Linked DNA regions of Homo sapiens: regions 1, 2 and 4 are each linked to region 3. Evidence: fine-mapped expression QTL. A gene starts in region 3. Each other region holds a variant in brackets. All regions are shown on one strand. Distances are from middle to middle. Region 1 overlaps FAM178B (family with sequence similarity 178 member B). Region 2 overlaps TMEM131 (transmembrane protein 131). Region 3 holds the start of C2orf92 (chromosome 2 open reading frame 92). Region 4 holds the start of FAHD2B (fumarylacetoacetate hydrolase domain containing 2B).

The links. PIP is the estimated chance that this variant, and not a neighbour inherited with it, causes the effect.
Region 1: its variant is fine-mapped to the expression of C2orf92 in whole blood (TOPMed, PIP above 0.99).
Region 2: its variant is fine-mapped to the expression of C2orf92 in whole blood (TOPMed, PIP above 0.99).
Region 4: its variant is fine-mapped to the expression of C2orf92 in caudate (GTEx, PIP 0.96). The same link has a PIP of 0.9 or more in pancreas.

Annotation. Positions count from the first base shown.
Region 1 is chr2:96,879,886-96,887,412 of GRCh38, reverse strand. All of the region lies in intron 14 of FAM178B (family with sequence similarity 178 member B), which reads left to right. Among named protein-coding and RNA genes, the nearest start is that of SEMA4C, 14 kb to the right of the region's middle. RefSeq lists an enhancer at 4,816-5,371. The variant C/T (reference allele first, on the strand shown) is at 3,837.
Region 2 is chr2:97,833,395-97,840,921 of GRCh38, reverse strand. TMEM131 (transmembrane protein 131) reads left to right here. Exons shown (of 41, transcript NM_015348.2): 8 at 3,765-3,845; 9 at 5,997-6,147; 10 at 6,245-6,301; 11 at 7,496-7,527. Among named protein-coding and RNA genes, the nearest start is that of ZAP70, 120 kb to the right of the region's middle. The variant T/A (reference allele first, on the strand shown) is at 4,118.
Region 3 is chr2:97,666,762-97,674,288 of GRCh38, reverse strand. It overlaps C2orf92 (chromosome 2 open reading frame 92), which reads right to left and starts at 4,576. Exons shown (of 8, transcript NM_001351368.2): 1 at 4,455-4,576. The coding sequence starts at 4,500.
Region 4 is chr2:97,091,825-97,099,351 of GRCh38, reverse strand. It overlaps FAHD2B (fumarylacetoacetate hydrolase domain containing 2B), which reads left to right and starts at 4,470. Exons shown (of 9, transcript NM_001320848.2): 1 at 4,470-4,651; 2 at 7,364-7,489. The variant C/T (reference allele first, on the strand shown) is at 4,299.

The DNA.
Region 1 (7,527 bases), 790 kb after region 3:
CCTCAGGCACAACCCCCATGGCTCCCCCTGAAATGCCTCACCCTGTCTAGATACAGTGGCTCAAGCCTGTAATTTCAGCACTTTCAGAGGTTGAGGCAGGAGGATCATCTGAAGCTAGGTGTTCATAGACCACCCTGCACAACATAGCGAGACCTTATTTCTGCAAACGGTTTGTTGTTGTTGTTGTTGTTGTTGTTTGAGATAGAGTCTCGCTGTGTTGCCCAGGCTGGAGTGCAGTGGCATGATCTTGGCTCACTACAAGCTCCGCCTCCTGGATTCACGCCATTCTCCTGCCTCAACCTCCCGAGTAGCTGGAACTACAGGCGCCCACCACCACGCCTGGCTAATTTTTTTGTATTTTTAGTAGAGATGGGGTTTCACCATGTTAACCAGGATGGTCTCGATCTCCTGACCTCGTGATCCGCCCGCCTCTGCCTCCCAAAGTGCTGGGATTACAGGCGTGAGCCACCGCGCCCGGCCAAAAGGTTTTTTTTTAAAAATGAGCCAGGTTTGGTGTTAACACGACACGGTGGCATACGCCTATGGTCCTAGCTACTCGGGAGGATGGCTTGAGCCCAGAAGTTCAAGGCTGCAGTGTTTGAGGCTCCCAGCTGTGCACCGAAGACGGCCAAGCACAGTGGGGAAGGTCCCTTACACGCCATCCTCAGTCTGCAGGAACAGCTCCCAGGCCGACCATGGCCTTCTCAAGTGCTCTCTGCGCATCACGTTTTCTGTCCCTTCTTCCCTGTCTTTGCCAGGAGTTTTTAGTGACGGAAACACAAACACAAATCCTGGAAAGCCCTGGGACAGTTCATCAGACTTAGAGGGACCCAAGGGCTAAACAGTGTCAAAAAACCTCAGTGTCACACCCTCCTCCTCCGGGCTCTGGCCCTTGGCGCCTTCCCAGGCAGGCTCTCCCCTCCTCCAGGCTCAACAGCCTTCCCTCAGCAGCCCTAGGCAAGTGACTCAGCTTCTAACCTAACACTCTACCTGGGTCTCCTCATCCTTTAACTCTTCCTGGACAAGAAAGAGCTTCGGCCCTCGAATCGTAACCAGAATGGCGTCTCATTGGCTTGGTTTGGGTCAGGTGCCCGTCTCTAAGCCAGTCACATTGGCAAGCTAGCATACAGTGAATGGCCAGCCTGGGATACACGTTCACCCCTCGAGTCAGGGCTGGAGTCACCACCATGGAACAGTTTGGTCTGAGTGTAGGGGACAGGAGGCTGGGACACTCTTACAAAGGAAGGGAAAGGACAGGATCCCTGGACGTGTGCAGCATCCCTGTGGTTCAGTCACGGGCAGTGGCCTTGTGCTCTGGTGTTGGTGGGAAGGATGAGGAGGGCAGTCCCAGGCTCTGGCCAGACGTGCCAACACCGCGGAGACAATTCAGTAAGTGAAAAAGCGAGACAAGAAGGGGAAGCCATGGGGAAACCATTGCTCTGTCAGGTGGTTATGCAACGCCCTGGCTGGTGTCAGTGACCCCCTCCACTCTACACGCTCACACGCACACTGACACATATGCACTGATGTATACGTGTACTGGCGTGAACTCTTACACATAGGCACCGAGAATCTTGTCCCTCTCTGGGTAGCTTGCAGAGCTAGGTTTTCTGGTCCACATCTCCCTGGTGTCAAGGTCTCTGGTCCCAGCTGGAGCAGCAGGAAGACCCCGCCAATCCCTGCCTGTCATCTCCCTGACCCCCACCAGCAGGAAGCCAGAGAGGAAGGTGGACTGGGTGGGAGCCCTCCGCCCTCCAGCAAGGATTTGCCTCCAGTGCCTTGGCTCCTGCCACCAGCCGGCGGATGGAGGAATGGGGAGACGCTCTGAGATAACCTCCCCACGGCAGGTCTGCAGGAATCTGGAGCTCTCAGCCTTCCATCTCTTTCCCTCCCCAGCCCCATGCGCCATGGCCTCCACATTCCCTCCCTGTCCTCAGTACCACGAGCAGGAGCCAGGGCTGCTCAGGGCCCAGGCCCCAGGCCCCAGCTAGAGATAGAACTTAAGAGATCCCCGCTGTGAAGGGTCTCGGATCTCTGAACTCACTCTCCAGGAAGCCAGAGGTGCAGGTGAGAGCTCCTGTTCTGAGGGCGTGGAGGGTGTGGGCACGTGCTGGGCCCCGAGTCCTCTGCAGCCTGGAAAGAGACACCCACCTCTCTACCCAGCAGGGCCCAAAAGCAAACTTCCATTCAATGGCCATTCACTGCAGCAGAGCCGGAAGTCCTGCCTGTCCAGCTGCTGCCAGCCTGTCTCCCATTAACCCTAAATGGGCCTCATCCCTGCTCCGTGTTTAGGGACCGTGTTTGGGTCACCCCCACCCCTTGCCCTAGCAGGCACTTTGACAGAATTGGGTGTCTTGCCTGGCAGGCCCCACCAGTGACGTCTGCTCTCTGGCTAAGACGTCTGCTCTCTGGCCTCTTGGCCCTGTGTCTTCTGGGACCCTAGGTTAGGAAGAGGTCTTAGGTCACCCGCCTCATTTCCTAGTGGTCGGTTATATGTCTTCATTTCTTCCTCACTAGGGCTTATGACCGGCGACCTGTCCTGGTCAGAGTCACTTCCCAAGTCAGCTTGCCTTTGGGAACAGAGCTTTCGATACCGCCCTCTGCTTCCTTCTTTAGTGTCTGCCAAAGCCAAGGCTCAGAGGTGCAACCTTGGAGCAGAAGCTGCCTGGCCAAGGGGAAGAGGTTGTGCGGTTTGCTCATGGGGCAGGGAAGACATGGCAGCCTCGTCCTGGTGGCCAGTGCCACACTGCTGGGGCTCAGAAGGCACGTAGCTAGGAAAATGCATCCCCTTTCGCCTGGTGTCCTGTGGACACACCAGTCACCTAAGCTCTGTCTCCCTCCCCAGACTGAGGCTCTTGGCCTGGGGCCTGAGTAGCCCTACCTCAGATTACTCATGATTCATCGCTGTTGTGCCCAACCTGTGTGGATACCTAGACCGTGCCCCGGGGGCCCAGCCTGCAAAGGGCTTTCCTCCTCCACCCTGGGGGAGCAGCCTCAGCCTCGCCCTATCCTTCCAATAGGAGGCCCGTGGACCCTTGCTGTTTCCCAAGGGGGATGTCCACAGTGTGAATCCTCTTTAGAGACCCCACCACCATCCACGCACACCCGGGGAGCTTGTCCTGCTGAAGGCTGAGAGCCCAGACATCTGCTCTTGGGCCAGACCTGCCCTTCCTGGACACAGGGTCGTGCACATCAGGAACCCTCCCCATGCCGCAGCTTCCATGTCTGCTGAAGGCGGGGTCCCAGGCCCTCTCTGTGTGCGCTACTGGATCAGGATGCCGTGAAGTGGTACTATATAGGTTTAAATTGCACAAAAAAGGGAAAAAAAGGATTGTGGCCCAGCCCCAGCCTCGGGTCTGAAAGGGCCCAGGGTAGACCAGCACAGCTTCAGCCTTTCCCAGACTCCGTTAGCTCTAGAGTCGATCTTCAGTCCGTGTGCTTACACCTCTGTCCTGAGAGGACTCGTGTGTGGCAATGATGATACCAAGGCAGAATGCTTCTCCTGGGCTGGGCTGGACCTCTAGGCTCTCGAGATTGGGCTGAGAGCAGCCCAGCCAGGCTAGGGCTGTGAGCATGGAAAGGAGAAAGCAAGAGGACCCCCCCTGGCTCCTGGTACCCCAGGCCAGAATCCCAGCACCAGCAGACATCAGGGCCAGCTTCCTGAGTGAGAGGCAGGGACGGCTGGGGGTGAGCCCCTGGGCCTCAGCAGCCTGGCTGGGAGAGCCGTGCCCTTTGGGTCCATCTTCGTCCTTCCCAGCAGGTGTTCCTGGGTCAGCCTTGGTTCTCCCCCCAACACACACACAGTAGCTGCCCCAGAGCCTAGCTGGACCTGCTCC[C/T]GCAGGGTCCTCCTGCCAGAAACAGGTCTGCCTTCCCCACCCGGTCTGGCAGCCTCCAGGAGAGAGCTGGATTTGGGAAGACTTGCCCGGGGTTAAGACTGGATTCTTGGTCATGACCTGATGGGGGAGAAAGGTTATATGTTCTGGCCAGAGCGAGTGGCTTCCTGGGAGAGCCTCTCCGTCCTCCTTTCCTGCCCCCCTTCAGCGTAAATAGCCCAGGCCACAGCCCGCTCCCTTGGCATTGGCTAGAGGGGAATTTTCTAAAGGATGAAGTTCCTGGGAAATGTCCACCCTTTTTCCCTTTCGTCTATGACAAAAGCGCTGCTAATGGCTCCTAGTTGACTTGGGAGTCTTGGCTGGGGGAGCCTGGGGTCAGAACTAGCTGGACCAGAACATGGAGATGCTGACCTCCCTTCCTCTGGTGACAGTCCCAGTCTGCTGTCTGCTGTCACTCAGCCTTGTCATTCCTTCCCCAGGGGGAGGGCACGGCCCCCTTGAAGGCTGTAGAGCCAGGAGTGAGGCATTCCTGCATGGAACTTCTCAGAAGAGCCAGCCCACCAGACTCTGGGGAAAGACCCAGAAAACGGGAGCTCGGCCCTTGCTGGCAGCGGCCGCAGGGATGGGCTGGGCTTTTCTTGTCAGTATTGGGTCCGGGCATGCCCTCAGACTCTGCCTTTCCCCATGATGTTGACTGAGGTTTCCGGGGTCCCATTTCCCATTAGGGCTTCCCAGCCTGACTAACGTGCCATGGGGCAGGAGCTGGGTCCCGTCTTCAGACAAGGTTCTGAGGCCTGGACAAGTGTAGCCCCCCAGCACCCAAGGAGGGCTAACCCTGAGGCCACAATGACATCCCCACCGCACCAAGCAGTTCTAAGAGACCTGGAAGGGCCTCCCTCTGGCGTATAGAAGGGCCACCTTGTGCTCCCAAAGGGAGAGGAAGCAGGTAAGGCAGGGAGTGCAGCCTGGGCTCAGCCTCTCTCTCCTGCCTCGTGGAAGGGAAGATGAACCGTGCCTCTGTAGTGCCAGCCAGGACAGGAGCAGGCTTGCTAAGTTCAGGAATTGGTCACACTGCGAAGGAAGCAGGAAGCGCAGCTCTCACACCTGGCCCTTCTTGTCTTGCTGGGAAGGGCCCCCTCACTCGCCCACCCCTGCCTGCCCTGCACCACTCCCGTGCCTGCCCCTGCCACGTTGGAGGGAAGGGAGCTCAGGGAGCCGCCAGCAGTGCATCACCAGCAAGCCAGCTGAGCTGGGCGAATCGGGTGTCCACAGCCGCTGGCGGTTTAGATGGGGAGACTCAGGGTCTGCCTGCTCCTGGCTACAGAGTTCCCAGTTTCCACTGAGGTTTTGTTCCTCTGACCTTCACACAGAGAGAGGGGTCTGGTGGGAGGGTGGGGACACCTTGCTTGTTGTCTGGACAGGATCAGACTCTCTCTTACCTCTTTGCAGCTCTGAGACCAAGAGTCCTGGGGAAATGCAGGGAGGAGATGGAAGTGTGGGTGTTTCCTATGCCAATAATGAAGGCTTCTTTTCAAAATCCCTACTGGGAACCCAGCTTCAGCCAAGCTCCCAGAGATGTCCCAAGGGAGGGCATCTGCACAGCCACCAATCTCCTTAAATTGGGTCAACGTCTTCCTTATAGGAAGCACCTCAAATGCAAGGAAGACATGCACCCAGCCACCCAGCCTCCAGGCAGTGGCAGGTTTAGGTTTTTCCCTTTGGGAAAAACAACTTATAAAATGTGGTTAACAGGGTTTTTCTCTAGGACTGCCATTTCCTACTCACTATCCACCCAAACACTCGGAATAGTTTTTCTGGGATTCCCCTCCCCCCTCCCTGCCCCCTGCAGATTCAATTATGGGAATTAGCATAAGAAACAAGTTGTGAAACCAGTAACTCTCCACTGCCTGGGGTAAGTCCACTGACAGATTTTTCCTCCCTGATGTTCCTCCAGGGCATTCCTCAGATCTCAGACCCTCCCCACGACTCCTTCTAGGAGGGGAAGTTCTGCAGCCGGGCCTCCTCCAGACAAAGAGACTCCCCCGAGAGCCCATGGGTGGAGCAGGCCAGTGAGCTGCGCCATCAGCAGTGGGGAGTGAAAGGTCTGAGAGGGACAGGCCCCCTTTCGCCCCTCCCAGTCCCACACATTCTCCCTCGCAGACAGCCCAGGGTGCCTTCCCCAGCTGTCCTCAGTGACGGCCCTGATAACCCTTGGATGTTTTCTTCGGCATCCCCTGCCACCTCTCATCATTAGATTGCCCTCTCAAAGAGGGGCCTCAGCTTCTTCCTTTTTTTTTTTTTTTTTTTTTGAGACCAGCTTTTGCTCTGTTGCCCACGGCTGGAGTGCAGTGGCACAGTTACAGCTCACTACAGCCTCAACCTCCCAGGCTCAAGTGATATGCCTGCCTCAGCCTCCCAAGTAGCTGGGAATCCAGGTGACCATGCTGGATAACCTTTTGGTTTTGTTTTCTGTGGAGTCGGGGTCTCACTATGTTGCCCAGGCTGGTCTCAAACTCCTGAGCCACAGCCTCCCAGAATGCTGGGATTACAGGCGTGAACCACCTTGCCCAGCCTGGGTCTCGGCTGCTTTTCATGGCCAAGTCCCGCTCCCATGCCTCACACCCACCCCAAACCCAGTTAGGTTCAGCCAATTACCGTTGGCAGTATCTTGTTAAAAAAAAGTTTTAGCCGGGCGCGGTGGCTCACGCCTGTAATCCCAGCACTTTGGGAGGCCGAGGCGGGCGGATCACAAGGTCAGGAGATCGAGGCCATCCTGGCTAACACGGTGAAACCCCGTCTCCACTGAAAATACAAAAAATTCTCCGGGCACGGTGGCGGGCGCCTGTAGTCCCAGCTATTCCAGAGGCTGAGGCAGGACAACGGCGTGAGCCCGGGAGGCAGAGCTTGCAGTGAGCGGAGATTGCGCCACTGCACTACAGCCTGGGCAACAGAGCGAGACTCCGTCTCAAAAAAAAAAAATGTTTTAAACCAACTCTCATTGTATTCTCCTTGTATGAGTACACACATTGTAGAGAAATAATCTTAAAAAAGGAAAAAGGAAAGGTAGGGATACCCTGTAATCCTTTCTCCCAGAGAGAGCTCATTTTCCTGCTACCTAGTACATTCCAGCACACCAGTGTGGCCACATTCTATCACCTGCCTCCCCCAGGCACCCCCAGCCTGTTCCCACAACTCTGCCCCCCAGGTTGTCCCCACTCCCTTGCACCTGTACTGGCCTCTGTTTCTGGAACCGCCCTCAGGGTCTGTGGCTTCTGTTTCTGGAACCGCCCTCAGGGTCTGTCATCAGCCCTCCTCTGCCTGCACAGGGCCATCTTTGCCTCGAATCCTACTGTTCCTTTGAGGCCCACTTCAGCTTAGTCAATTCCTGAAGCCTCTAAGTTGTACTCGCCATCCCCCAAAAAACCCTGGAAGGGCCCTTTCTCCTTTTGGTCTGTGCAGAAGCAGAGGTATGTTATTTCCTGACCGAATGGTTGCCCTCCTGAAGTATCTTTCTCCCTCTCATGTCTGAGTTTGTTTCATGTCACCATGTCTCAGTCAAGGTATAGTGTCCGGCACGCAGGCCCAGACTTGCTTTATGACAAGGGGGCAGTGAGCTGTTGCAAGACTGCAAAGGCTGGACAGAGTCGCAAAGGCAAGGCCAGGTTGGAGGGAAGGGGAGCTCAGGGAGCCAGCA
Region 2 (7,527 bases), 170 kb before region 3:
AACCAGGGAAATGTTCAGAGCCTGAATAGTGAAATGCTTAGAAATGATAAGTGAAAGCAGCACGAAAGAAATCTCTCCCCAACACTTGGCAACAACTGGGTGAAGATAGCCCCAGTTTTAATTTTTGTAGCTGGATGTCTGCATCACAGAAGAACCTGTTCTTATGTCCTGCTTTTCAGGTGGGAAGTATTCCCTCTTATCCTCACCATCCTTCTGTTGTTTACGTCCTTTTGATACTTTAGGTAATGGTGTAGTTTCCCTGTTCTGGCTGTTATTACAAATCTATGTAGAAACTTCAGAAATTCTTGCTGCTTTCTTTCCTGTTTTTACAAAAGACAGGGTCTCACTCTGTCACTCAAACTGGAGTGCAGTGGCACGGTCATGGTTCACTGCAGCCTTGAACTCCTGGCCTCAAGCAATCCTCCTGCCTTAGCTTCCCAAAGTGCCGAGATGACAGGCATGTGCCACTGTGCCTGGCCTCTTACTCCGTTAGACCCGACTGCATGAGTTGCCCCACTGTGCCGTAGAAGGGCTGTTAACAGGGTGCCCCAAGGGTGCTGCCTCATTGTGGTGGCCAGACCACAAGGATGGAGCTTGCAGGACTCAGCAGATGTTGGTCAGTCTACAATTGCCAGAGTTGCCTTACAGTCTGTACCTTTTCTCTTCAGCCTTTGGAGTTACCAAGCCCAGCACAGTGATCACTTCGAATTCAATTCATCTAGTCTTTTTCCAGTTAAAACATTTTAATTCAAGATTTACACAAGAGAGCAAATGGAACACCAAAGTTACTCTCTTAGAACCAAATATAGATTGTTTACCTGGGAAGACACTCTTACCCTTGTAGTCCAGTGTTACTGTGTGTCACTAGTCTTGTCAATATTACAGTAAGAAAAGATTGTAAAGCGAGAAAATGTATATCGTTTGTTGATTATACAACATAAACACATGAGTATGTTCTCCTCAGGAAAAAAATGTTAACAATTCAAACATGAATGAAGCAAAAACGTCCCTTTGAACTTCCTACTTCCCAGTCCAGCTGTCCAGCAGAACTTTCTGTGATGATGGAATAGTTCCTTTCCTGCTTTGTCCAAAACAGTAGCCGCTAGCTACGTGTGACTGTTGAGCTCTTTAATTCAGCTAGGGTGGCCAAAATGTTATTTCAACTAATTTAAATGTAAATAACCACATGTAGCTGATAGCTATTGCATAGACAGCATAGTTGCAGTCCAAGCCCTTCCTCGTGGACACCACTTTTGCCACCTTGTATGTATCATTCTAGACCTTTCTCTTGTGCATGCGTGTATGTGGGCACAGAAACATTTATTGTGGGAATTTGTTTACACATAATATATTCTGTACATAATGTTTGGCTTCCTTTTTTTCCTAAACTATACTAAATTAGAACAAATAGCACTGGACTAAAAATAAAGAATGTGTCAGGTTCCTAGTTTTAGTGTAATTATTTGTTTGACTTTGTAATTTAGACTTTTTCTGTCTCTATTTCTTTATTCATTTTCTCTGTTATCAGTAGGCGACTTTTTAATCTTCTGGGGGTTTTTTTGGTTGGTTGGTTGGTTGGTTGGTTGGTTGGTTGGTTGGTTGGTTGGTTTTCCAGACACCAGGCTGGAGTGCAGTGGTGCCATCTTGGCTTACTGCAGTCTTGACCTCCCAGGCTCAACCAATCCTTTTACCTCAGTCTCCTGAGTAGTTGGGACTACAGGTGCACGCCACCACACCTGGCTAATGTTTTTTATTTTTTTGTAGAGACAGACTCTCACTATGTTGCCTAGGCTGGCCTACAACTCCTGGGCTCAAGTGATCCCCGCTACCTTGGCCTCCCAAAGTGCCGGGATTACAGGCATGAGCCACTGAGTCTGGTCTAATCTTCTGTTTTCAAGCATTGTTATGCTTGTTTGCTTGATACTTGGAAGGATTGATGAAATAATGTGTGATGTTTTCTGGTTTTCCAGAAAAAGTTCTATAGTCATCCTATCATTTAAGGTGCTATTATTATTAACACAATAAGCACTATAGATGAGCACTGTAACAAATCAGCAGGCAAGTAATAATATACAAAGAAAATCTATAGCTTATCAGTCTTTGGTAAATGCATTACTTTTACAGCAGCAACTCCCCGGCCCCTGCCAAAAAAACAAACAAACAAAAAAAACCTTTAAGGGTCCAGGCGCAGTGGCTCATGCCTGTAATCCCAGCACTTTGGGAGGCCGAGATGGGTGGATGACGAGGTCAGGAGTTCAAGACCAGCCTGACCAACATGGTGAAACCCCATCTCTGCGAAAAATACAAAAATTAGCTGGGCGTGGAGGCATGTGCCTGTAATCCCAGCTACTCAGGAGGCTGAGGCAGGAGAATCACTTGAACCCAGGAGGCAGAGGTTGCAGTGAGCCGAGATCACACCATTGCACTCCAGCCTGAGCGACAGGGCGAGACTCCGTCTCAAAAAAAAAAAAAAAAAAAAAAAAAAAAAAAAAAAAGTTTAAGCTTAAGAATTGCCATTTTTCTTGCTTTATCCTTTTTTATTCACTCCTGGAGGACTTCTTGTGATGAAACAAGTGAACGTTTCCACCCATTCTCATACTTCACCCCAAATTTAATTGAATTAAATATATTTTTTCTTTTTAAGAATTAGGGTTAGCTTACCTTTAAAGGAAGGTCTCCTGCCTTGTGACCCATTTTGTGTATATATATTTACCCAAAAGAAAGGAAAGCAGATGACCACACCAAGACTTGTACTCAGTATCCACAGCAGCTTTCTCTTTAATGGCCAGACATTGGAAACAACTCAAATGTCCCATTAATGTGTGGATTGAAAAACTGCGGTATAGTCATCAAATAGAAGTGAACTATTAATGCATAAACAAAGTGGTAGACCTCAAAATAATTGCATTGAGCAAAAGAAGCCAGACACAAGAGTATATGTTGTATTATTCCATTTAGATAAAACTCTAGAAAATATGAGCTAGTCTGAGGTGATAGAGAGCAGATCAGTGGTTGCCTAGAAATAGGAAGGGACAGAGAAGGATGGATGGATTGCACAAGGCATGAGGAAGCTTTTGGGGATAATGGATATATTTAATATCTTAATTACAGTGATGGTTTTATGCCCAAACACATAGGTCAGGATTCATCAGGTTGTATACTTTAAATATGTATTATTTATTTTACATAAATAACTCAATAAAGCTGTTTAAAAAAAGTAAGCTTAGGCATAAGCCACAGAAATATTTTTGCTACCAGTAGAAACCACATATTTTCATGTTCCATTAGAGTTATTTTGTATATATCTCAAATATTTTTACTCTTCCCCATCTCACAATTATGGTAGTTATTTGATCCACTGCTGGCTCTTGTTATAAATGTATGGATAAAGAAGCACTTTGTGTTACTGTAAGAAATACAAAATTTATGTTTCCAAAACTTGGTAATTTTTGTAAGTGATTCCCTTTGGAAAAAAGAAAAATAAGTATCCTGTTACTTTCTAAAATCTGGTCTCTGGAACAACTATGGTACTTACACTGTTTCTAAGTTAAATTTTCAAAGTTACCTTATTTTAATTAAAAATACAACTATTGCTTACACATACAGAGCACTGAATTTAGTGATATTATACATATCCTACGTTTATATCTTTAAATGTTTTGTGATAAACAGTTAGGATGTCAGAATTATTTCTGTGTAATAGCAAGTCACCTGCTTTGAGAATATGACTTTGAACGTAGCCATCATGTGCTCTTTTGCCCCAGGTTGTAGAAATGTACTCTAGTGGAGGAGACCTTCACCTAGAACTCCCAACGGGTCAACAAGGAGGTACCAGAAAACTGTGGGTGAGTTGTAACCTAGTTTTCTCTTGTGTGTGCTCCCATGAAACCGATTATTCTTAAATTAGAAAATATTTAACTCCTTAATAGGCTTAACAAATATGGATGACTTCTCTTTAATCGTTGTCTTAATGTTAATTTATGTCAAGTATATATGAAAATTGGAGGAGGAAAGAATATAAGTAGTAATTTTTGGAAAGGGCAGTGAGTAAAATTGGTGGGAGTTCTACCCCACTACATGGAAAGAAAGTAACTTCAGCTATTCTTCCTCCGAATTA[T/A]ATGGGTAAAGTTGTCTCTGAGTCTGATAATTTATGATGTGCTTTACACATAAAAAAATGTAAATGATTAAAAAAATGTAGGAAGCATTCATTATGTTTTTGTTTTGTTTTTGAAGGTAAGTAATTGAATGTTCAGATTCACCATTGGTAAAGGAGATGGCATTTGCAGAGAGAACCTAGTCAAGTGCCTGCGATAACTTAGAAAAATTTTAATTCTTGAAGGTGATCTGTGTTCACCTTCAATATTGTTGAATATTTAACAATATTAACCAAATTAAAGAATATGTAAGAGAACCTTATTTATAAAGATTCTTGCCATTTGTGAGTTTTAAAAATGTTTACCATGCTTTAATTCAAGAGGGAGAAGGCAATTGTGGTCAATTCAGTTCCATATCCAGCTCACTCAGATCACTGCTCATCTGTAATGGAGGAACACAAATTTTACAACCAGGAGTAAGGTTTGAGGATCAGAGTTTCTTTATTAACTGCTGTTACACACACACAGCCTCTTGATTCTGTCTTCTGACCAGTCTTGACCACAGAAGAGATGTGGAGATTATGTTTTTAGAATGTTAATATGAACATCTAGAAACAAATTTATCAGCCAGTTATTTGGTTAATTCCCAGAATATAGAAACACAACCAGCAAAAAGAAATATGCAATGGACAGTTCATTTATATCCTTTCACAAAAATGTTTCACCTTGAAATTGTGGTGTTTGAGGGAAAAATCATCTATAAAACAATCCTTCAGAGGATTAAATTCAGACTATTATATCTGTATATATTATTCTAGACAGAACTAAGAACTTCCTGTGAAACATAATTGGTATCTAATAAATAAACCTAAGAGAATTCAGATTTTTAAATAGTCAAGAGTGATAATGATAACAGAGAATAGCATGTTTTTATAGTCCTAGTGGCTGCAAAAAAAGATATGGTAGTTCTTATTCCTACAAACCTAGACTGAGAAAAAAGCCAATGGGCTGTGACCTCACCTCCAGCCTATTTCGGTGTATAGGTGAAAACCCCAGAGACCAAGTCAACTCCCTAGAGCTGGGGAGTGGATGGTCCATCCCTCCAATCTTAGGAGGGTCCCAATCACCTGTTTTCTACTTTGGGACTAAAAAAGAGAGTAGGGATAAGTGAAGGCCACTAAGCTGTAGAACACAAGAATCTCCTAAAATATGCTGAAAGGTTTGTGCAGAGAAGAAATTCAGGCAGTCCCAGGGAGCCATATTGTTCTGAAACCAGGAAAGAGATTACTCCTCAAAATTTTTTTTCCAGTAAGTCTTCCTTTTAGTATATAAATGTTCTCTCATTACGGGACTGAAAATGTATGCTGTCTTACATGAATGCAGTTGGTAAACTGTGGATTTACTTGAGAAGCTTTGCATTGTTAAGTTTTCCATGAAAGAGCAGTGTAAGCCCTGCTGGTTATCATTTATGAAGGTTCTTGTGGACTTCTAGAAAAGTATTTACCTCTGATGGTGACATTTCTGTTGGTTAAATTTCAAGACTGAGTTATATACCCAAACACCACTAACTAGCATATTAAAAAATAACTGATTTTGTAGATTAGTTTTACCTTTTAATGGTGATTTTGTAACTGACAATTTGTTTTCAGATCATTTGACTTCTTTTGCTTTGCCTACCTTACATATCGTATTTCATCAATTCTAAACAGCACATTTTTCACATTTTAAAGTTCTCCAGAAATGGAGTGTGTGTTACATATTGGTTTAATTAGCAATGCATTTTTTTTATTAATAGGTATATAGAATACTCATCTTTCAGTCAGTGTCATCCAGTTCAATAAAAAATGGTGGTTTTGCTACATTACAAAAGCTGTGCTACATTATGGTCTGTTAACTTGTCAGGAAATTCCTCCTTATGAAACCAAGGGAGTGATGAGAGCCAGTTTTTCATCTAGAGAAGCAGATAATCACACAGCCTTCATAAGAATAAAGACTAATGCTTCAGACAGCACAGAGTTTATCATTCTTCCTGTTGAGGTTGAAGTTACAACAGGTTAGTGGAAAACTGATGAAATCGAAAGTTGTTTTGTTTTCAGTATAGCTTACTCTGGCAAAGTGAAAAATAATTGTTGACTTTTCTTTTTTCCAAGCTCCTGGAATTTATTCCTCAACTGAAATGTTAGATTTTGGTACACTAAGAACACAAGGTAAAAAAATCTTTTAAAAGAGTCTTTATGGAGTTTTTTTTTTTTTTAACCCCTGTATTCAGTGCTGAATGGCTCTACTATGTAATTCAGCTTTAAACATTATTTCTCAGTTGGTTGCATGATCTTGTACAAATCTCCTTTTCAGACTCAGCGCCTTTACAGGTTTATACCCCATTCCGCTGAGGGGTGGGTGGCATTGCTTAACAGGTTGGAAAACAAGGCCATGGGATAATTTAAGTCATCTAAATGGAAGATTGAGGCAGAAAATAGTTTTCTAGTTTCTTAATCCAGTTGCTCATCAGTTCAGTTACGCTGAATCTTGATTTTTACTTCTGGATTTTGTTTAGATATGAGTTATTAAATTACATTTTGACAAAATGTTGAAAGTTTGTTGCAGCTGTTCAGAAAACTCAAATTCTGAAATTAAAAACAACTAAGTAAAGATTTTTGCTAAGGAAAAACTAAGAGCACTTGTAATTTGGGATGTATATGGACTATATATAATAATATGTAGTTAAGATTGAAGACCATATGTTTAAAAATTAGATTTGCTGTTAGTATATTTTTACATTGTAAATTATTAATTTGCTTCATTATGTTTTGCTGGAAAGCTAAAAGATTAGTAATGTCTGACTTCACAAAAAAATAATATTTGGGGGGCTGGGCATGATGGCTCATGCCTATAATCCCAGCATTTTGGGAGGTGGAGGCAGGCAGGGCACTTGAGGCCAGGAGTTCAAGACTAGCCTGGCCAACATGACGAGACCCCATCTCTACTAAAAAAATAATACAAAAGTCTGCTGGGCATGGTGGTACATGCCTGTAATCCCAGCTAGTCAGGAGGCTGAGGTAGGAGGATCACTTGAACCCAGGAGGCTGAGGTTGCAGTGAGCCAAGAATGCCCCACTGTACTCCAGCCTGGGTGACAGAGCAAGATTCTGTCTCATTTAAAAAAAAAAAAAAAAAGTATATATTTTGGGGTTTTCAAAAATCTGGTTTAAGAGGGAACAGTTCTTATAATACACAATGTCCTTATGAGTAAAGCAATTACCACCTAATGTTTCTTTTTATTAATCTTATTGTCATTGTATTTCACAAATTGATAGCTTCAATTTGATATCTTATAAGGTAAAGATTCTAACTTGGCTAAAAAGCACCTTTTTAAGAAATATTTCTTTTCCTCAATTTTAACAGATCTACCAAAAGTTTTAAACCTTCATTTATTA
Region 3 (7,527 bases):
AGAACATTTTAATGGCATGAGACATTTGGGGCAGCAAACACCGCCCACTAAAGATATATGACCCCAAATCTCATGATACTCAGTGCCATAATTCTCCTTCTTCTTCCTCTTGTCATTCTGCCACACAAGCACTGGGGAGGCCCCCAATGATATCAGAGAAGCGGGCCTTTCCCGACCTCCTGCGCCAAAGCCACAGTGGCCTCCCCCAGATTGCTATGACAGAAGGAAAATAAACCACTCTTTGTTTAAGCCACTATACGTCAGGTTTTCAGGAAATTGCAGCCAGGTGCATTCTTAACCGGTACAGCAACTATGGCAACACACGGACTGCCCTCACCGGGATGATCTTGACCACTCAGTTTTATGACCCATTATTGTACAGAGGAACCAAGCCCACCCTCCTAAAGATCATAATGCTCCTGGAGACTGGCCTAGAGTAGAAGACTTCAGATCATTCACACAAGCTTTCACCCAGCCTTATCTCTGCACAGAAACAGTATGAGGTGCTGGGGGTTCAGAGAGGAAGGTGACCTGGTGTGTGGTGTGCCTCCCCGAGCCATCTAGATAGCGGGAGAGGCAGAAGTATATACAGATACAACCAGACATGACACAGCCACACAGAGCTACAAAGCAAGGGCCAGGGAAGACAGGAGGGGAAGAGCTCGGCCTGCTGGGGAAGAAGTGGGCCCTGCTGGTAAGGGTGGGTTCTGGATTCAGTTGACCACAGTATTTATTGAGACCCAAGGTCACTCCTGTTCACCGACATTCGATGTCTCTGTCAACTTCCTTCACCAACAATCTGGCGCTCATGATCTCACTCCAGCCCTGGTAGGCCAGTGTGTGACATGCAAGACACCTGGAAACAGCATCTAGGAAACACTAGCTCATGAGCTACAAGCATCATGAAAAGCCCTTGAAGCAGTCATTGAAGGGGTGCTGCAGACCAGCCATAGCCCACACCAAGATCACACATGACTCACACACTCCACCCCACGCTTCGTGCCACTGAAGAAGGATGTGGAGCAAGGAGCCCAACCCCAGCACTTCCTGGGATGTGACTGCCTGGGACCCGACAGACACAAAGGGGAAAGCTGTCCTCAGAGAGTTTTGAAGCTTGTGTAAAAATGTTCTATATGAAAATTGTACCCACAAAAACAGGGGTAGGAGCCATGGGGGCAGAAACAAAGCAGAATAGATTCTATAAGCTCGGAAATCTCTTTGTTTATAAAGCTGTTGCTAATTCACAAGGGTTACATTTTTGAAATATATTAAGTTCTCCTTCCCTTTTAAGTTCTCAGGTTTCTGGCTTCCCTGGGAAGAAGCAGTTTTACTTTCCCTTCCAGGCTTTCCTTGCTAAGTCACAGAAAACAGTCCTCACAAAGCCCACTCATCCTGCATTCTCAGTGCATTTCCAGGGCTGTTGGTCCTCGGTGGTTTCCACTCGCTTGATGTAACAGGAGCTCACCACAGAGACACCAGAAAATGAACCATCGGGGTCACCAGGACAATGAGGAGCTGCTCTCACCACCTGTCCTTGATGACCATGCTGACCTACGAGTCCCTGGAAATGCTGCCCAGAGGGAACTGCAGAGTTGAGCCGTGGCCTCCAGTGCCAAGGCCCACCTGGTGTGAGCTGGGCTGGTCAGTGGACTCTTGAGGGGTGATGGGAGCTTCCCAAACCCCCAACCAGACTCCCATCTTCAGATGCAATCACTCCCCTCCTACACATATGGGGCCGAATTCAGAGACACTGGGGTCACCTGCAAGGCCGAGAACAAGGCTTCTGCCTCCTAGACAGCAGGTGCTGAGGGCACAGCTAGGGGGACTGCGAGTGCTACCTGCATCTGCTCATGCATCCCCTCCTGGTCACCTGCCAGGCAGTTGTCTATGCAGACTGCCCGAGGCCTCTGTGATGGCTCCCGTGGGGAGGAGCAAGCCCAGCGCTCCTGACACGGACAGCTGCCGGAACGGAATAGAGGCCCATCGGGTGTCGAGAGATCTGCTCCCTTGCAAGCAGGAATGAACAGGCATCGCTCTGTGATCCAAATGCCTCCTAACCCGGGGGGAAGCATCAGCGCCACTCTCCCAGTTGCTCCTTCTCACACCTAAGGTGACCCTCAACCTTCACTCCTGATGCACAGCCCAGGCACCCTCAGGAGAGACTTCACTGGCCTTTGGACAGCTTCCTTCAGCAGACAGCTGTGGTTCAGAACCCTTTTCTCCGTCTCAGCTCTCTGCTAAAGACTTCCCTGGGCCTTAGTTTTTCTCACATGTTCAGTGGAAGGTTCAGAGTGGAGACCAATGAGTCTCAGCCTAGTGTCCCCTGGAGGGTTAGAAAACTACAAATGTGAAGGTCTATCCCCACACCCCAAAATCTGATGTGGGGTGTGTGTGGAATGTCTCAATTGTTAAAAAGAGGATTGCCCCAGGGGTTTTCATGCTCAGTTAGGGCTGAGAACCCCTGGAGGAGGTTCAGCTCGGCTTTGGGGCCTCAGAGCAGAAACTGGCGAGGCAGGTGTGTCACAGCTAGTGTGAGGTGGCATCTGACGCCGCAGTCCCACATGGCCCTGCTCTGCTCCACTGATGCTCAGTAGGGTCCTTTTGAGGTGTTTATCATCTGTTTTGCTTAATTTCCTGAGACTGTGACACGTAGACAGATTCTAGCCTCAAGGAAGAGCACCTGCCTTCCCTTCACAGCAGCGGGAACAGGTTACCTGGGAGACAATGAGGACCATGCACGCAACTCTTCAAATCCAGCCTGAGGTTCCACAGGGAGTGGGGTAACTCACCAAAGATTTTAGCCAAACCTTCATCAGGATTTTTTGAATTTGAGGAAAATTCAGGCCAGGTGCCGTGGCTCACGTCTTTAATCCCAGCACTCGGGGAGGCTGAGGTGGGAGGATCACTTGAGGTCAGGAGTTCGAGGCCAGCCTGGGAAACATAGGGAGACCCCCGACTCTACAAAAAATAAAAATTAATTACCTGGGCGTGGTGGTGTGCACCTGTGGTCCCAGCTACTCAGGAAGCTGAGGCAGGAGGATCCATTGAGGTCAGGAGTTCATGACCAGCCTGGCCAACATGATGAAATCCCATCTCTACTAAAAATTATATTTTAGTAATTACTAATTTACTAGTAACTTACTAATTTAGTAATTTATTAGTTTAGTAAATTAGCCAGGCGTGGTGGCACACGCCTGTAATCCCAGCAACTTGGGAGGCTGAGGCAGGATAATCACTTGAACCTGGGAAGCAGATGTTGCAGTGAGCCAAGATAGCGCCACTGCACTCCAGCCTGGGTGAGAGAGCGACACTCCATCTCAAAAAATTAAAAAATTAAAAATTAAATAAAATTAGATAGTGATGCTTCACAACTCTATGAGTATACTAAAAACCACTGAATTATATACTTTGTAAAGGGTAAATTTGGCCAGACATAGTGGTTCATGCCTGTAATTCCAGCACTTTGGGAGGCCAAGGTAGGAGGATCACTTGAGCCCAGGAGTTTGAGACCAGCCTGGGCAACATAGTGAGATCCCTATTTCTACAGAAATTTAAAAAATTAGCTGGGTGTGGTGGTACATGCCTGTGGTCCCAGCTACCTGGAAGGCTGAAGGGAGGATCCTTGGGCCTGGAATGTTGAGGCTGCAATTAGCTGTGATTATGCCACCGCACTCCAGCTCTGGGTGACAGAGGGAGAACCTATCTCAAAAATAATAACAATAAATAGAAAAATAAAATAAAGGGTGAATTTTATTATATATTATATCCTATAAAGTTATTACTAATTTTTTTTTTTTGAGACAGGATCCCACTCTGTTGCCCAAGCTTGAGTGCAGTGGTGTGATCACGGCTTACTGCAGCCTCGACTTTTTGGGCTCAAGTGATCATCCCACCTCAGCCTCCCTAGTAGCTGGGACCACACGCACGCATCACCATGCATGGCTAATTTTAAAATTTTTTATACAGACAGGCTCTCATGATGTTGCCTAGGCCTGTCACAAACTCCTGAGCTCAAGGAATCCTCCTGCCTTGGCCTCCTAAAGTGCTGGAGTTACAAGAGTGAGCCACTGTACCCGGCCTAACCCTGTTATTTTTTAAATAGTGCATATATATAGATAAAATCAGGAGGGTTAGTTAGCATATGGTGGTTCTTTATACTAATCTTTCTACTTTTGCATATGTTTGGAAATGCTTACAGTGAAAAGTTAAAATACGCATGTATGCCACCCTCCTATAGAGCTCTGAATTTTGAGAAAGCTTCAAAGTTAGGAAAATGTTTTCAGTTACTCCCTTCCCCCAAGTAATAAACCCTGAATGGCAGATTTGGGGAGGTATAGAAGGTAGAGTAGGTAAAGCATCTGTGTTCCCCACACTGTGGGAGGGAACGCCCTCCTCTGCCCCACTTAGGCTTGAAGTGAGGCCCATGTTTCTCTCCAGCTGCCACAGCAATATACCTTGGATCCAGCAGAGAACAAAGAAGAGGGCCATGGCTCTGCTCATCTTTGCCTTAGTCCATAAACCATCATGGAGAAGCCAGTCTTCTGATGGCCCTTCAGATTCAGCAGCTGTGGACTCCAGGGTACCACGGAACCTAACGGTCTATGAAGTCATACACGGAAGTGAGGTGGAGCCTGCTCAACCATGAGAAGGGGAAGGGCCTGTGTCTGTGGACAGTGACGGGGGCTATGCTGGTGGCCCTGAAGTGACTGCCTCTCTGCTCACTTCCCTCGGCTCCCTGGTGCCTTCCTCCATCCTGCATGTCCTGAGGGCAACAGGATATTAACCAGGACTCTGAAGTCACAAGTGATAAAACTTCAACTAAATTGGCTGAAGCGAATTGGAAGTAGCTAGAATAGCCAGAAAAATCCTATGATCAATCAAGACATCACAGCCGGGCGCAGAGGCTCACACCTGTAATCCCAGCACTTTGGAAGGCTGAGGCAGGCGGATCACCTGAGGTCAGGAGTTCCAGACCAGCCTGGCCAACATGGTGAAAGCCCGTCTCACTAACAAAGTGTTGCTGCTTATTATATTAGGTAAAATTATAACACCAAAAATAGCATAGACCAATTGATACGCCCATTTTGTTACTCACGTGTCACTATTTCCCTCTATTACATTTTATAAGTATTAAACTGTTTTCAAAGGAAAAATCTATTATAGTACCTTGTACTACACTTTTTTCTAGTTTTTTCTCCATGTTCATTTTGTAATGGGTCCCACAAATTATGTAGCCAGCCCTGCCCTTGAGCCTTCATGTTCTTACAGTGTCTGTTCCATGGCTGAGATGGCAGATATCTTTTAGGGGTAAAAACTTGCACAAAGAGTTATATAGGGCCGGGCACGGTGGCTCACACCTGTAATCCCAGCAATCTGGGAGGCCAAGGCAGGCAGATCACTTGGGGTCAGGAGTTCAAGACCAGCCTGACCAACATGGTGAAACCCCATCTCTACTAAAAATACAAAAATTAGCCAGGTGTGGTGGCGAGTACCCATAGTCCCAGCTACTTGGGAAGCTGAGGCAGGAGAATCACTTGCACCTGGGAGGTGGAAGCTGCAGTAAGCCAAGATCACACCACTACACTTCAGCCTGAGCAACCGGGCGAGACTCTGTCTCAAAAAAGAAAAAAGAAAATAATCTGCATAGAAGTGGACCCGCACAGTTCAACCCTGTGTTGTGTAGATGCTGACTGAATCGTCTCCCAGTTCTGGAGGCTGGAGGTCTGAGATCAAGACGTCAGCAGGGCTGGTTCTTTCTGAGGCTGTGAGGGAAGTCTCTGTTCCAGGACGTGGGCTCAGATGGCCATCTTCTCCTTGGGCTTGCAAGACATCTTCCCTCCATACACACCTGAGTCCACATTTCCTCTTCTAAGAACACAGGATCATATCGGATTAGGGCCTGCCCTAATGACTTCATTTTAACTTGATTTCCTCTGTAAAGACCCTATCTCCAAATACAGTCACATTCTGAGGTTCGGCGGGGTGGCTAGGACTTCAACATATGAAGAGAGGGTACCATGTAATCTGTAACAGCAGGTCATGGTAACCACAGAAATCTTATTTCTCTAAAATACCTTCCAAAACAAAAACAAAAACTAGAATAAAAAATAACAAAGAATATATAAAACAACACAAAACCCACACCCTCACCACAACCACAGGACAGAAAATGTCCAAATTCCAAATGACTGGTAAATAGAAAAATAAATGCTAACCCGGGCTCCATCTCTTTTGCTTCTGCTGCTGGCCTTTGCAAAGAGGAAACCTGGAGGTTGAAGAGGGTCTAAAATCTCCATCCTGAGTTTGCAAATGCTGAAAGCGTAACCTGGTTGATCAGTACAAATACCCAGGGGTGGAAGTGCCCTGGGGACAGGAGATTGGTGAGACTCTCTCACCAATGGACTCTCTCTCCCTCTCTAAAAAAACAATGATGTTTATTCAGGAACGGGCATTACAATGGGAATAAGTATGGATGTGTTCCAGGAGGTAAAGGAAGACATTTTTTAAAGAAAAAATGAAAAGGGTTACATAGGCTTTTATAAGACAATCATCTTTGGGGCCAGGCACGGTGGCTCACACCTGTAATCCCAGCATTTTGGGAGGCCGAGGCAGGCAGATCACAAGGTCAGGAGATCGAGATCATCCTGGCTAACACGGTGAAACCCCATCTCTACTAAAAATACAAAAAATTAGCCAGGCGTGGTGGTGGGCGCCTGTAGTCCCAGCTACTCGGGAGGCTGAGGCAGGAGAATGGCATGAACCCGGGAGGCGGAGCTTGCAGTGAGCCGAGACCGCACCACTGCACTCCAGCCTGGGTGACAGAGTGAGACTCCATCTCAAAAAAAAAAAAAAAAAAAACTTAGCTGGGCATGGTGGCGGGAACCTGTGATCCCAGCTACTAGGGAGGCTGAGCCAGGAGAATTGCCTGAACCCGACAGGTGGAGGTTGCAGTGAGCCCAGATTGCGCCACTGCACTCCAGCCTGGGCAACAGAGAAAGATTGTCTCAAAAAAAAAAAAAATAAAAAAGAGACCTGAAGGTGCCTCATATACTGTTCAGAGACATTCATGCATATAACAGTCTACACTCGGTGTCTGCTTTCTCTTTGCTTTTACTTAGCAATGTGTCCTGATATGTTTCATATGAAATTATATAGCACTCTCTCATTATTTTTAATGGCTACACAGTGATCTATTTTATGAATGTATAAACACTAGATGCAAATGAATACATACCAATGACTTCATCTGCACAAAGTCCAGAAACAGGCAATACTAATATGTTTTCAAAATTCAGGATAGAGGTCACCTCGGAGGAGGAACAGGTCAGAGACCAAGGGGTAGGAGCTGACGGGGGGGCTGTTCATGCTATTAGGAAAACAGGAGCCTAGGAGAGACAGGGTGACACCATTTTAAAATCAACTGCTTTTTTTTTTTTTTTTTTTTTTGAGACAGAGTCTGGCTCTGTCACCCAGGCTGGAGTGCAATGGTGCGATCTGGGCTCACCGCAACCTCCATCTCCCGGGCTC
Region 4 (7,527 bases), 570 kb after region 3:
AGTCAGTAGGATGAAATTTAATGTCAGTGAAGGGCAAGTGGTCTCTTCAGGTGTAGATGCTCTTTTGCTTAGATGAAGAATGAGGAAGTCATTTTCTGCCAGCTGTTCATGTACATAAGGAATGGGTTGCACTCAAGGTAATTATGATGTGCTTCTGTAAGAGATGCTGAATTCATAAATGTTTCCATAATCTCTGGACAAGGAATTGGGCATGCTATCCTACTCCAGACCATTCACATCCTCTTAAGGTGAGATATCCCACTTTCTAAGAGACTTTGGCAAATGAGTCATATCAGTCAGGATGGGCTGAGTTTTGCTGCAATAACAAAAGACTCCCAAATCTCAGTGTCATCTCCCTCATATTCCACATCCAATGTGAGTTGGCTGTGGCTCCATCTATGGCGTTTTTACTCTGGAACACAAGCTGACAGAGTGGTTTTTATTTAGAGCATTCTATCTAGTAGCAGAGGGAAAAGAGACATGGCAAACACAGGCCGGCTTTTACAGAAGCCTTGTAAGGGGTCTATGATGCTCCTACCCACATAGCATCGGCCAAAACAAGTCTGATGGCCAGGCCTTAGTTCAGCTAGATGTGAACACCCCATGCTCCAGCAGGAGGAGGCACAGCTGATGATGACCAACGGTGATTGAATCTACCCCAAGGAGATTATCAGAATGATGTGAGGTCTAAGAAAGGTGAGGGAACTAGGGGAGAGGTGGCAGAGGAATGACATGCTGGTTTTATTCAAACATATTAGAAAATGCAAGACAAGATGTGTTCTGCACAGCTCCAGGGGCAAGCTGAAGACATTTCTACCAGCTAGGAGTCACAGGCTTCAGGTTATCATGGGAAGCACATTCTGACAGGAAGGACTACCCAGCATTAGGGAATACCGAGGGCACGTTGTTACCTGGGCTGCTCCATGCGCCCAGGACAGTGATGACACTTGAAGACAGTGTTGCCTTCCATTCTCCCCCTCCCCATAAAATACTGGGCCCAGCTGCCCACACAGCAGTGAGCTCCCTATCCCTGAAAAAATGTAAGCACAGCCTGGGTGCTCCTGGACAGAGGGCTGTGGATGGAGCCCCTGCATCGCAGGGTGAGGCCAGACCACAGCAAGCCAGAGGAGGGTGTGTCTAGCCCAGGGTACACGTAGGACAGATAACCTGGCAGGGATGCTGTGCTCCTTCTTGCTAACATGTGCCCCTCTCAAGCTTCCAGGAAAAAAAAATCACATAATGAGGTTGCTAAGATCTACAGAAAGAATGAATCTTCTATCCATGAAATTGTGAAGAAGGGAAAAGAAATTTGTGCCAGTTTTACTGTCACACCTCAAAGTGCAAAACTTATGGCTACAGTGTGTGAGAAGCGCTTAGGGTAGAAAAAGCATTAGATTTGTGAGTGGAAGATGTCAACAGAAACGTATTCTGATTGACAGCAACCGTGTAGCACCAGATTAACTTCATCTGGATTAAATTTGTTCACTGGCATCAATGTATAGGAAAAGATGTGGCAGATGTAGGGTTTGGTACTATCTGCAGTTTCAGGCATCCGCCAGGGGTCTTTGAAGATATCCCCCAAGGATACTCCATATAAATGAAATCATCCAATATGTACTCATTTTTAATCTACCCTTTTTCACTCCAAATAATTATCTTGATATATATCCATGTTGTATCAACAATTCATCCCTTTTTCTTGCTAAGTAGTATTCCCTAGTGTGGCTAAACACAGAGTGTTTACACATTCACCTGTTAATGGAAAATTGGGTGGTTTCCAGTTTGGGGATTTTACAAAAAGCCTGCTGTGAACACTTCTGAATACATCTTTGCATGAGCATATTTTTCTTATTTCTCATGTAATTACTATCAAACAAAAATATAAATCTGGATTCCATAAAAAGAGAATTTATTCAAAAGGATTGTTGTGGGGGTTGGGGGGGGGACTATTACAATAAGGAGACAGTCTGACGATGTGATCCTCAAGTGTCTCAGAGGTTAGGCAAAGGGCTGACCTTGTATAGGGAGGCGTAAACGTGGCTAGAAAGAACTGTTATGGGAAAGTGAGCTGAGCAAGAGTGTCATGATCGAGCAGGTCTTACCATGCAGATAGCCTGTTCTCAGGAGGGACCCTCAGGAGGGCGGTGGGTTGGCACAAGCTGCGGGTGGGCCAAAGCTCAGGGGCTTGGAGAAGGAGAGAATCTGAACCAAGGTTTGGTTACAGGCATTTTGTTCTTATTGATCTGTGGGAACAAGCAGTCCAGCTAATCATTTATGATGCCAAGAATGGGAATTTAGAGGGTCTGTGTATGGTCTGGTCATGAGGGGACATTCAGGATTCTTATCCAAGCTATATGGAAAGTCACTGGTTCTTTCCAGTAGGGTGTTTTCTGGAACAAAGGAGTGGAGGGATTCCTTAATCTTCACTATTTCTAGGAGCAAAGGGCTAAGGTGCAACTCAATACTGTCAATAGTTAGGATTGAAATGGCTAGGTCATATGGTAGGAGTATGTTTAACTCTCTTCATACACTGCCAAATGATTTTCAATTGTAGTGATACTATTTTATAATCCCATAAGCAGTGTACAAGAATCCCAGGTCCTCCACATTCTTTCGAATACTTGGTATAATCAGTCTTCTTTGTCCATTCTAGTAGGTGTGAGACGGTGTCACACTGTGCTTGTAATTTGCATATCCTTAATTATTAATGATGTTGAGCATCTTTTCATGTCTTTCAATTTTCTATCTGTATATCTTCTTTGGTGAAGTGTCTGTTTAAATATTTTGTCCATTTAAAAAATTGAATTGTTTGATTTTATCTATTGATTTTAAGTGCTCTTTCTATATTCTGGATACAAGTCTTTTATCAAATATAGCCTCTGAAGATCTTTTCTTTCAGGCTGTAACTTAGCTTTTCAGAAAGTCTTTGGGAGCTATGGCTTAATGAAACACTTACGCCAGGTTCTCCTCAGCACATCCCCCTGATCACAGCCACCCCCATAGGCTCCATTTCTTTTTTTTTTTTTTTTTTTTTTTGAGACAGAGTCTCGCTCTGTTCCCCAGTGGTGTGATCTGGGCTCACTGCAAGCTCTGCCTCCCGGGTTCAGGCCATTCTCCTGCCTCAGCCTCCCGAATAGCTGGGACTACAGGCGCCCGCCAACACGCCCGGCTAATTTTTTGTATATTTAGTGGAGACGGCGTTTCATAATGTTGGCCGGGATGGTCTCGATCTCCTGATCTGATTCGCCCACCTTGGCCTCCCAAAGTGCTGGGATTACAGGTGTGAGCCACCGCACCCGGCCATAGGTTCCATTTCTATATCAGTGGTGACTTTCTGCAAGCTAGGCTGAAGTCCCAAGCTCCAGACCCACGTCTCCAACTGCCCACCGTTCAATGCCCTTTGGATGTCCCATGCAAATTGGAGCTCACTATCATCTCCCCAGACCCGCTGCTCCTCCAGAAGCCCTGTCTCCATGAACGGCCCTGCACCTACCGGGCTAGAGACCCAGGAGCCGGCCTTGTACCTGCTTCCTTCTCACTTCCACCTCCTGTCATCCAGAGCTGTCAGTTCTTCTTCCTGAACATCTCTGGACACTCACCTTCTCCGCCAAGCACCGCACCACCATTGTTCTCACCCGCACCACCCACCCAGATACCTTTCCTTAGACGGGTGGCCAGAGAAAAACTTCTCAAATAGAAGTCGGGCCATGGCACGCCACTGAGGACCTTCCAGCGGTCTCCTGTGCACTTAAACGAGGTCCAGACTCCTTTGTGGGACAAGTAAAGCTCTTGATGATCTGGTCCTTGAGTAATGTGGGGGCCTCTTGCCCAGAGCCCCTCACACTCTTCAAAGCCGGCAGCTGAAGAGCTGAGCAGTAGCTGTCTGTGGAGTTCAGCCACCGCTCCCCGCACGCCTGCCCTCTGCAGGGGATGGAGCACCGTTTCCCCACTTCCCCACCTGCGCCCAGCAGTGCAGGTGAAGGCCTGGCTGCGGAGAGTGGCTGGGAAACGCTGAGCTTTGGGGTCAGGAATGCCAGCTCCACTACTCACCGCCTGTGTCACCCTGGGAAAACAGCTCTGGCCCCAGGTTCTCCATAAGTAAAACAGGGTCACTCATCCCTCCCCTCCTTAACGACATATGTCAGAATCAGAAGCCACAAATCATTCTCTCCCACCCAGCACGCTGCCTTGGTCTCCTAGACCACTTTCCCCAACAATGGGAAAGGCGCCAGGCCCAGAACAAGGCCGAGACCGGATGAGGCCAGCGAAGCGCCCAGGGACAAACTTTCAGGCAGCGC[C/T]CACTCTCGGTCTCGGGCAATTGCAGGGTCCCTCCGAGAGCGACCGTCTCCAGAAAACGCGGCCGCCGCCTGCCTATGCCCTGAGCCTGAAGAGCCCCCGGCGCCGCCCGCCCCGCACTGGGCCCGCCCTCCGGGATTGGTGCCCTGCTAGGGGTGGTTGCCTGTGACGTCACAGGACGCGCCCGCTTCTCGCTGGAGTGCGCACCGAGCGGCAGTGACTTCGCCGCTGCTGTAGTTCCCCGGCTGGATGCGGTGACTGGTGCCAGTGCTCAGGCGCCCGCTGCCCTTGACCTCCCGCCCCGCGAGCCCTAACTCAGCGCAGGAGGACCGGCTGCCGCCGCCGCCGCCGCCAGGTAGACCAGGCCTGGCTGGGTTAGGCCAGAAGGGTGTCCCTGGCGCAGGTCTCCCGCGGAGGGCAGAACTAGAACCAGGTTCCCGGCCGTTTCCGACCACACGGATGGGGCGGACCCATGTGAGCCCTCACTAATTGCAGGGGACGAAGCTGGGCATATGGGGAAACTGGGGGTTTCCAGGCGAGTGGACGGTGGGATGGGATCCGACGTGCACACCCACGTTTCAGGCTACTGTTTCCACCTCACGTCGCCGCCCCTTTGCTTATGGACTCTTGCAGAGTTGGATTGAGCTCGGACTGTGTGACATAGTGGTTGTTGCAGAAGCCCCAGGGCCACTTTCTGACTAGTACCTTGGGCACCTGACGTCATCCCTTTGAGTCTCAGTGTCCTCTTCTGTAAAGTGAGGGCGCTTTACCTGAGGGGATTGCTGTAAGGTTGGAATGAACCTGCATGTGTGTGTCATGTGGGAAGGGAACAGTCAATGGGGCCTGGAGTTCTCTTGGAGAGCTGGTAACCAGCCTCGTCCCTGAGGCAATAGCCAGAGAGCGCCTGTAGTTTCCCCACGCATGGCTGTTTGCAGGGCCTCTGGAGGATCTCCTGTGGGAGGTCCCTACTTCTCACTACAATCTTTAGGGCCTTTGGAGGATTTCCTATGGAAGGTCCCCACTTCTCACCACAACATTCTGGGTTAAAATGTCCTTGGTAGGAAGATGGGGCTGAAGCTAGATTTTCTTGCTTGCATTACAGGCTTCTGAACCAAGGACTTCAATGTCACCTGGACTTGGATTCACATCCCAGCTCCCTCCCCTCCTAGCTTTAAGACTGTGTAACCTTGGGCAAATCCCTTAACCGCTTTAAGCCTTAACTGTTTCATCTGTAAAATGGGACTAACAGTACCTACCTTCCACAAGCGTCAAGAATTAAATCAGGCCGGGCGCCGTGGCTCACTCCTGTAATACCAACAATTTGGGAGGCCGAGGTGGGCGGATCACAAGGTCAGGAGATCGAGACCATCCTGGCTAACTCAGTGAAACACCGTCTCTACTAAAAATACAAAAATTAGCCGGGCGTGGCGGCATGCGCCTGTAGTCCCAGCTGCTGGGGAGGCTGAGGCAGGAGAATGGCATGAACCCGGGAGGCAGAGCTTGCAGTGAGCCAAGATTGCGCCACTGCACTCCAGCCTGGGCGACAGAGCGAGACTCCATCTCAAAAAAAAAAAAAAAAAAAAAGAATTAAATCAGACATTGTAGGTAGAGCACTTAATAGTTGGCATTCAGCGGCAGCAGTTACTGTTATGTTAGCATGTGGAGTGTCTGAGTGTGTGCACTTTGGCTCGAACAGCCTTTTGACAGTGGCACAGTTGGTGCTTGTGTAAGATAGCAGGGCAGAGAAGTCAAAACTCTGTTTTCTAGTCAAACTGGCGGGCCACAACAGTGGTGACCTAAGTCTAATGAGTCTTTAACTGAACAAGGCAGATTGAATCTCCAAGTGAGGACCAAGAGTCTGGGGCTCAGCTGCCTCAACATTTTTGGGCATAGAAGGCTGTACAATACAAACTGCCTTTGTTGGAAGAGCAAGGAACCATTCAGGGAAGGCACCATGTGGTAAGGAATAGTGGCCAGACTTGGATTCAGAACAAAACAAGAGAATAGTGTTTGTCTTTAAGTGGAGCCTTGGACTCAAAACAGGACCTGAGCTCTGTGGATAATTTCTTTTTTTTTTTTTTTTTTTTTTTGGAGTCGCTCTGTTGCCTGGGCTGGAGGGATGTGGCATGTTCTTGGCTCACTACAACCTCTGCCTCCTGTGTTCAAGTGATTCTCTTGTCTCAGCTTCCCTAGTAGCTGGGATTACAGGTGCCCGCCACCAGTCCTGGCTAATTTTTTTGCATTTTTAGGGGATACAGGGTTTCACCATGTTGGCCAGGCTGGTCTTGAACTCCTGACCTCAAGTGATCCACCCACCTCGACCTCCCAAAGTGCTAGGGATTTCAGGTGTGAGCCACTGCGTCTGGCCCTTGTGGATACTTTCTAGGTGATTTGAGGAGGAAAGGCACAGCCATGTCTCCTGAAGTTAACAAGCATTAAGCTTTCCCAAGTAGTGAAATGTCAAGCCCCTGCTTCTGTCACTTATTTGTTCATTTAGCAGAAAGTCACTGAGAGCCTTCTGTGCACCAGGCACAGTGCTGGGCAGTGAAAGAGACAGACATGTGCCCTGGATCCAGGGAGGAGATGACCAAGTGATGGCTGTCAGGCCTAGACCTTGCTGTTTGTCTGCAGCCTCTTCCCTCAGGCAACTTGTTCTCTATCAGGAGAAATGAAATAATTATTATCTGGGGAGGCAGGTGGGGGTGTTGCTCCTAGAAGACAAGGACAGCCTGGTAGAGGTTCTAGCTTGATCATGTGAGCAGTGGAAACCATTTTAAACAGGACCAAAATAGCATTTAAAAAATTGCTTATGGCCACTGTGAAGCCAGTTTCACCAGCGTCACTTGCCCATGCTAGGCTGCCACCCAGCTAATTCCTGGTCCTGCTCATTTAGCCCAGCTCAGCTCACATCACTTCCTCCAGAAACTAGACAAGGGTAGAGCCCCTGACCATCTTCACAGCATTAGTCCTGATAGCTGAATCTTACGTCAGTTGTTAACATCTGTGACCTGTGCAGGGAGAATGGCAGGGCTGAGTTTGACCTACATTGTTTCCCCAATACCTACAGCAGAGCCAAGCACAGTGGGAACTTTCAGAAAGCACTGGTTGAAGGAACGCTGGAATCCCTGGGACTTACTGCGTAGCATGTAGTAGTTGCTCCTCTACAAAAGTTTCACCTTATGAAGTATAGCAGGTAAAATACAAGCCTGGACCGCTTCCCGTGTGGTATGC